Linked DNA regions of Homo sapiens. The protein of the gene in region 1 purifies or fractionates together with the protein of each later gene. This does not show direct contact. Each region holds a gene or a part of one and is shown on either strand. Other genes may lie near its edges. The genes, in order: UTS2 and KSR2.

Evidence for each region.
Region 2: the proteins of UTS2 (region 1) and KSR2 purify together in Homo sapiens (co-immunoprecipitation; one large-scale study listed by IntAct). This does not show direct contact.

What each region holds. Positions count from the first base shown.
Region 1 is NC_000001.11:7,850,015-7,854,588, reverse strand, and holds the start of UTS2 (urotensin-2 isoform b preproprotein), read left to right. Parts: upstream 1-1,523; 5' UTR 1,524-1,585; coding exon 1,586-1,688; intron 1,689-3,666; coding exon 3,667-3,777; intron 3,778-4,574. UniProt on the Homo sapiens protein: Highly potent vasoconstrictor.
Region 2 is NC_000012.12:117,962,392-117,966,207, forward strand, and holds part of KSR2 (kinase suppressor of Ras 2), read right to left. Parts: intron 1-3,816. UniProt on the Homo sapiens protein: Location-regulated scaffold connecting MEK to RAF. Has very low protein kinase activity and can phosphorylate MAP2K1 at several Ser and Thr residues with very low efficiency (in vitro).

The DNA.
Region 1 (4,574 bases):
GTGTTCATGTTTTTTCCCCTAGTAGTTCTATCATTACGTTGTAACCACTTTTCTTTCTTCTTTTTTTTTTTTTTTTTGAGACATGGTCTCGCTCTGTCACCCAGGCTGGAGTGCAGTGGGACGATCTTGGCTCACTGCAGCCTCAACTTCCCAGGCTCAAGTGATACAGGCATGCACCACCACACCTGGTTAATTGTTGTATTTTTGGTAGAGACAGTGTTTCTCCTTCTCTTTTTTTTTTTTTTTAGACAGAGTCTCGCTCTGTCACCCAGGCTGGACTGCTGTGGCGCAATCTTGGCTCACTGCACCCTCCGCCTCCTGGATTCAAGCAATTCTCCTGCCTCAGCCTCCTGAGTAGCTGGGATTACAGGCACGTGCCACCATGCCTGGCTAATTTTTGTATTTTTAGTAGAGACGGGGTTTCACCATGTTGGTCAGGCTGGTCTCAAACTCCTGACCTCGTGATCCATCCGCCTCAGCCTCCCAAAGTGCTGGGATTACAGGCGTGAGCCACTGCACCCGGCCGAGACAGTGTTTCTCTATGTTGCCCAGGCTGGTCTTGAAATCCTAAACTCAAGTGATCCTCCTGCCTCGGCCTCTCAAAGTGCTGAAATTACAGGCATGAGCCACCGTGCCTGGCCTATCTTTGTAACTTTTGTGTTTAGGTCCACAGAAAGTTTTGAGCAAAGAACTACCATGATCTGACTTATGCAGATGCTTCTGGCATCACTCTGCTGTGCTGAGCCTGTGGCAGGCCCGAAGGCAGACTTCAGGACGCCTGTCGGGGACCTTTCCACCCATCCGGGCTTGGACCAGCTTGGGCAGAGTACAGTTGGGAGTAGAGGCCACATTCTGGAAATGTTTATCAGCGAGTTTTCTGGTGTTAAGTCCTTCCTCCCTCCTTGCTGAATAATAATCAACTTTATGAAGTTATTTCCTTTCTCTGAAGATTGAAGTGCTTGCGGCTTCACATGAGGCCACGTGTATGTACAGAATTGTCTTGAGCCTGGAGCAATGTTTGCTATGTATTTTAACTTTTCACTGTTTTAAAGGAAATAGCTGGTTTTACGTTTTAATCCACAGATTGTCATTCTTCAGGGATGGCAGCCCTAAACACAGCATGGCAACTCATCTACTCACTCATGAAAGATTAAAAAATGGAAACCAACGTATTTCATCTTATGCTCTGCGTCACTTCTGCTCGGACTCATAAATCCACGTCTCTTTGCTTTGGCCACTTCAACTCATATCCAAGCCTTCCTTTAATTCATGATTTATTGCTGTAAGTTGCCTCTTTTGCCAGATTTATAAACTCACTGTTCTTTATATAATACCTACTTTGTACACTAGGCAACAAGACAGTTAATTTATTGTCTATGACTTGTTACCTTGAAAAATTACATCAATGCAAAGTGATTGCCTTTTAGCCTCCATAGCCAATAAATTCATTTTTTTTTTTTTTTTGGAGAGGATGATGTCAGGTCATAGGATGATATATATAATCAGTGAGCAGGCAGAATGAGGAGACAGTTGAAAGTTCTCTACAACAGAAGCCAAGAAGGAAGCCGTCTATCTTGTGGCGATCATGTATAAGCTGGCCTCCTGCTGTTTGCTTTTCATAGGATTCTTAAATCCTCTCTTATCTCTTCCTCTCCTTGACTCCAGGGAAATATCCTTTCAACTCTCAGGTAAGATTTTTTTTTTCCCCTTATGTTAGTCTTGAAAGAGCCTTTACTAGTCTTAAATTCAATGTTAGAGATAAGAATGGGATTCCTGCTCGAAGGAGTCTGGAGTCTTGTTCTCTCAATAGTCCCAGCTTTGAAAAGAATATTAAAGGATCCTTACTGCACATTTTAGATGTAGTAATGGATACAGTTTTTTTTCTGTCTCTACAATGTAAAAGGAGAAGAGGATAATTGCTTGTTTCATGTTACCTCTGTACTCTTGTTTTGGGTAATATATACATTTTTCCAATTTTAAAAATTGCATGAAATTTAAAACATCATTACTTTTAGTTTTTACTTTAAATGAACTGGTTGAATGTAGCACTGGTTGTTCTAATTATAGATTATTAATGGATTTATTTGTTTCACCTTTTGTTTAAAAAAATCATCTGATATGTGTTCTACGAAACAAAAATGTTTACTAAAAATTTTTTAGTAAATGACAAACTAGGGAACTAGGGAGTTCATAGACTTCCAAGTATATTGATCGTTTCCTTTTGATTTATGTTAATTCAGTTTAAGTCTAAGTTGAGTTAAAGAAATACACATCAGTCAAGTAGTTTCTCATTTTGCCATTATCTTTCCATTTAGTTAGAGAAATGAGAAAGCTAATGCTTGGGGATTAGGTTCCATCAAAAACTTAACTAGATTTAATCTTATCTTTAATCTTGAGTACTTTTTAAATAGGCTTTTTTTAAATAAAGAAAAAAAACAAACAAACCCTCTTTTAAGCCAAGGATTTTATAGTTTCTCGTCTCTAAAAGTTCATCCCAAGCAGCTTTCTGATGATCGTCAAGCACTGTCATCAGGCACTGCCAACCAACTTCCCGAGTCACCGAGATGATCATTGGCTGTCCTACTAATAGTTAAACACTGGCATTAACTTTACTGAATCTCTGCTATTTACAAAGAAACAGCACACATCTCAAGATGAAATAAGTGAAAATACTCAGCTACTACTGTCATCTTAAAAAATTTTACAAGTAATTTAAGAAACATAGATGAAATGAGTGTAGCATCTCACACAAATTCGAAACAAGTGGCAGCTTATCGCAGAATTTGTTCTCATTTATTTCTCCAGAAATGTGCTTTCCTATCAGCATTTACAGATGATGAAATTTTATAGATTTTCATTAACAGTCTTTAGAAGTGCTGTGAATGTGCTCTGATGCCTTTATGATGATCTGCTCACTGTCCTCCAATCAAGGTTGCAGCTATTTGTAAGCCTGTGGCACGCTGGTCCCACACATGGCCTCCCACCCTGACTCCCACAGCCTCGAATCGCAACACAGCAGCAGGTCTGCACTTACCACGCCTCACACTCCGGTGTGCCCTTTCCACACACCTTAAGCGCACTTACCATGCATTCTATATGCCATCTGGTCGACCACATTTCACATAGGAAATGCCACAATCAAGTTCCTTACAGATGATTTTGAAGCCAATTCTAAGTATAATAATTGTATTGAAATCTTGAAGTTCAGTAAAAGAAGAGGTGATACCATCCTACTGGCTTTATAGGAAGATTGTAAACGATCTTTCTTTTTCCTCTCCAATGTCACCACCCAAATATCTAAAAGCAAAAAGGCAGTAGGCAGCAGTAGATAAGCAGAAATGAGGGAGAGTCAGACTTTTTGAACCAAAATGGTTTTGAGAAAGGCTGTGGCTTATCCCTCAGCTCTTGTTCGAGGCAGCCGAGGGGCTTGGCTCATCACGCGGGTGTCAGATCCACGTCTCCCGGCTTCCCATTCTGCTGGCTGGCACACGGGCTGGTAGCATTTCCACCTCTTCTAGAATACCACTGATGACACGTCATGAACTCAGCGTTGGAAGTTTTTCTAGTGTTCATCTCCCTATCTCTGGTGCTCGCCAAAGACACAAGGAACAGAAATAACTAACTGAAGGATGAACCCAATTCTAAGTATCTGTTTTTACTCTGTAGCACCTCATGAAGACGCGCGCTTAACTCCGGAGGAGCTAGAAAGAGCTTCCCTTCTACAGATACTGCCAGAGATGCTGGGTGCAGAAAGAGGGGATATTCTCAGGAAAGCAGGTAAAATGCTTCTCATGTTTATAGCGTGTCTGATTTAATTGCTACTGAACTTACCGTCTGTCCTCATCTAGAAGAGGTAAAGCTCTATTTTGGAATATAAAGATGAGCTATATAAAATAAGTAATTACCAACACTCTCCCCTCCCGGCCTGTGCAACCTTCTTTTCCCCAGCAGCTCCTTGCTCGCACTGTGCTCTTTGGTACCTCAGCATTTTGTCTTTCTGTGTGGACTTTTATTTTTGCGGGGTAGAGCTTGGTGGTAATTATTCCAGTTTCCAGTGAGTGCAATTTAAAATCCTAGTTTCCCGTTTACTGAAAACTTAAAGTAATCTTTCTGTACTCCAGTTTCTTAATCTGTAATCAGGAATGATTAAGTTTCCACCTCAGAAGGTAACTTGTGAAGAGTCAATGAGTCAAGGCAAGTAAAATGCTCGAGTCACACAGAAAGTCATTAATAAAATGTCAGCTTATTCCCCCGTGGCCACATTCCCCCAAGCATTGACACATATGCTCAGGAAGTTCTGGAAACAAAATTGAGCCTTTTGCTGGGTGCGGTGGCTCACACCTGTAATCCCAGCACTTTGGGAGGCTGAGGTGGGCGGATCACTTGAAGTCAGGAGTTTAGGACCAGCCTGGCCAACATGGTGAAAACCCATCTCGACTAAAAATACAAATATCAGCCGGGCATGGTGGCGGGCACCTGTAATCCCAGCTACTAGGGAGGCTGAGGCAGGAGAATTGCTTGAACCCAGGAGGCAGAGGTTGTGGTGAGCCAAGATCTCACCACTGCACTCCAGC
Region 2 (3,816 bases), on another chromosome or scaffold:
CAGCCCATGGGCCCAATATGACCCATCGCCTGGGTTTTGTTTTGTTTTGTTTTTTGGGTTTTTTTTTTTTTGAGATGTAGTCTCCCTCTGTCACCCAGGCTGGAGTGCAATGGTGCCATCTTGGTTCACTGCAACCTCCACCTCCCAGGTTCAAGTGATTCTCCTGCCTTAGCCTCCCGAGTAGTTGGGATTACAGGTACCCGCTGCCATGCCCCACTAATTTTTGTATTTTTAGTAGAGACGGGGTTTCGCCATGTTGGCCAGGCTGGTCTCAAACTCCTGACCTCAAGTGATCCACTCACCTCAGCCTCCCAAAGTGCTGGGATTACAGGCGTGAGCCACTGTGCCTGGCCACCATCACCTGTTTTTGTAAGGCCCAGAAACTACAGTTTGTACAACTATAAACATCAAAAAAAAAATCAAAAGAAAAATATTCATGACATGCAAAAAGTATATCAATTTCAAGTTTCAGGGTCCACAAATAAAGTTTTATTAGAAAACTGCCCCACCAGGCCCGGCTTGATGGCTCACGCCTATAATCCCAGCACTTTGGGAGGCTGAGGTGGGCGGATCACTGGAGGTCGGGAGTTTGAGACCAGCCTGGCCAATAGGCTGGTCTGAAACCCTGTCTCTACTAAAAATACAAAAATTAGCCAGGCGTGATGGTGCAGGCTTGTAATCCCAGCTACTCAGGAGGCCGAGACAGGAGAATCACTTGAAACTGGGAAGCGGAGGTTGCAATGAGCCGAGATCACGCCACTGCACTCCAGCCTGAGCAACGGAGCGAGACCCTGTCTCAAAATAAAAAGAAAACTGCCCCACCCATTCATGTATGTACTGCCCATGGCTGCTACATGCTACAGCACAGAGTCGAGTAGCTTTGATAAAAATTGCAGGGTCCACAAAGCCTAAACTCTTTACTATCTGTCCCTTTCCAGAAAAAGTTTGCCAGCCCCTGCCGTAGGCTGCCATCCAAGGCAGGCGAATCACTTGAGCCCAGGAGTTCAAGATCAGCTGGAGCAACATAGCAATACCTTGTCTCTATTTAAAAAATACAAAAAATTAGCCAAGCGTGGTGGTGCATACCTGTAGTCCCAGCTACTCAAGAGGCTGAGGCAGGAGGATCTCTTGAGCCCTGGAGGTCAAGGCTGCAGTAAGCCATGATCGTGCCACTGCACTCCAGCCTGAGTTACAGAGTGAGACCCTGCCTCAAAAAAAACAAAACAAAAAAGCTTATACTTTTCTATTGTATGCATTCCAAAACCTTTGAAGACTTCTATCTCCTTCCACAAAGGGATGAAACGTTGTTGGTCTGACTCTCTAATCTTTAGTTGGATCCCAGAAGTTAGTGGCCTAAATTCATTTCCTATGACAGGCTACCAGGTACCCTCCATTCTGGGCAAAATGGTCTCTAGGCTGCCCCATGAAGGCATTCAAATACCTTCATCTGGTTTGTTGTTCTTGTCCAGCATGCTCTCCCCTTTTGCTGCAATCTAAACCCTCCTCATCCTTCACTCCAAATCCCCATCTCCCCAACCAAGAAGGTTTCCCTGCTTTGCCAAATGTTTTCCCAGGTGTATCCTATGGAACAAAAATCCCAGGAGAAATCCTTGGGCCGGGTGCAGTGGCTCACGCCTGCACTTTGGGAGGCCGAGGCGGGCAGATCATCTGAGGTCAGGAGTTCAAGACCAGACTGGCCATCATGGCAAAAGCTCGTCTCTACTAAAAACACAAAAATTACCAGGGCATGGTGGCGGGCATCTGTAATCCCAGCTATTTGGGAGGCTGAGGCAAGAGAATCACTGGAACCCAGGAGGCAGAGTGAGCTGAGATTGCGCCACTGCACTCCAGCCTGGGTGACAAGAGCGAGACTCCGTTCTATCCTCTCTTGGAGGCCTAATACACATAGGTAGCATATTAAAGGCTCTGAGAAAAGTCCTGCAGTAAAGATGCCTGTTTCCCTTTGCTTAACTCAACCCTTCCCAAACTTATTAACCACAGAATTTGTTTTGTCCACAGAACACTTATTGACTACCAGCATTAAGTACAGTGCCTGGATGTCAGCATTTGTTGAAAGAATTAAAAACGCTAACATCCCACAGATTTAGGGTTCTACAGAACATACTTTGGAAATGCTACTCAAGCTCCTCCTTCTCTCTGTCCAATCTGAACTGCTCCCTTCCATGCCATCTAGTCAACACCATGTAATGCCAATCATTATCATCATCACAGCTGTCATTCATTTAGCACCTGCAGCCACTCTGTTCCAGATAGTGCTAGACCCTTGAAAACGTTATCTCTTTCAATCCTTATAACCATCCTCTGAAGTAGGGAATATTATTTAATTATTGCTGTTTTGCCAAAAACTTAAAACTATAAATCAGAAAACTTAAATCACTAGCCCAAGATAAAGTAAAAAGACAAGCTAGAATTTACAACTATATCAGTCTGACTCAACGTTCATGAACTTTCTTTTCCACCAAAATATCTTCTGACTATGTGCCATGGCTGCCATCGCTGGCTGTCCACTTACTTAATATCTACCTATGCCTCCTTCCACACTAGCAGAGCCCTGATTTTGCATGGAGTGGCAACATGTCATTTCAGGCAATGGATCATGATCCATCTAAGCCGATCCTGGTGGTGGTCCCACTTCCCCACTTCCCGGGCTCCCTTGCAGCTAGGACTCAGTTCTGGCCAAGAAGATATAATCAAATCATCTGCAAGGTGAGGAGGAAGAGATGTCCTGGGGAACCCTTTATTCCTTCACACTCACCAGGTCCTCCTCTTTCCTACCTTGAACTCAGATGTAATCGCTGAAGCTGCAGGAACCATCTTGCAACCATAAGAGAAAAGCCATGAGAATTCCCAAAGACATCAGCCCTGGTATTACTAACCTACTGAGCCAACTGAAGCAGCTATATGTCTCCAGAATTCTTGTTACATGAAGAGAAACCATTATTTGCCTTACTGCTAGGATTGGGTTTTCCATTTCATGCAGCTGAACACATGCCTAATGGGCTCACACATTGTCCCCCATATTATTTACCACTTAGACTTTATCATTATTTCACATACACATTATTATATCATGAAGTATGCTTCCTGAAGGCCAAGTCCACCTTGCATATTTTTGTTTCTACAGAAGTGTATACATGCTATTAAGTGCTGTTCATTATCACAGCACTGTTCAGGGATCATCTATTCAATTTATTACTTGCATTAGTGTTAGCAAGCAGTGAGTTTTCACCATTAAAGAGCTGAAATATCACATCTTTCTCCTAATGGTTTAGCATCTCAAAGTGTCCATTTGAAAACATGTATCAGAAATACCTGGACTGTTTATTAAACGCAGATTCCTTGACCCTCTTGCTAATCCCAGCTAAACTAGAATCTCTAGGGTTAGAGGCTAAGAATCTGCATTTTAACAAGCACCCTCATATGGTTTTGATATACAAAATTAGAAAATTCCGTGGACCCAAATGTTAGCGTTGGCTGGACTTGGCTGGACCCTAAGTTACCAGCCCCTCTGCAGGGGCCCTCCCTAACCCTGCAAATCTGGGAAATACAAATTGGAATAATTGCTCAAGAGCATTCCCTGGGCAAGATGGATGAAAGTGGTTGCATGCTCTGTAGCATACTGGGACAAGGGAACTGAAAACAGATGCATTTCCTACAACTGCAACTCCCCCATAGCCATCCTACCAGTGCCTCCATCCCCCCAGTTTAAAAGGAAAACCACTAGGCAGAAAGAAGGCAATGCCCACTGCGGCACATCCCCATCCAGGAAGCTATCAGAGGATGGAGCATGTTTGA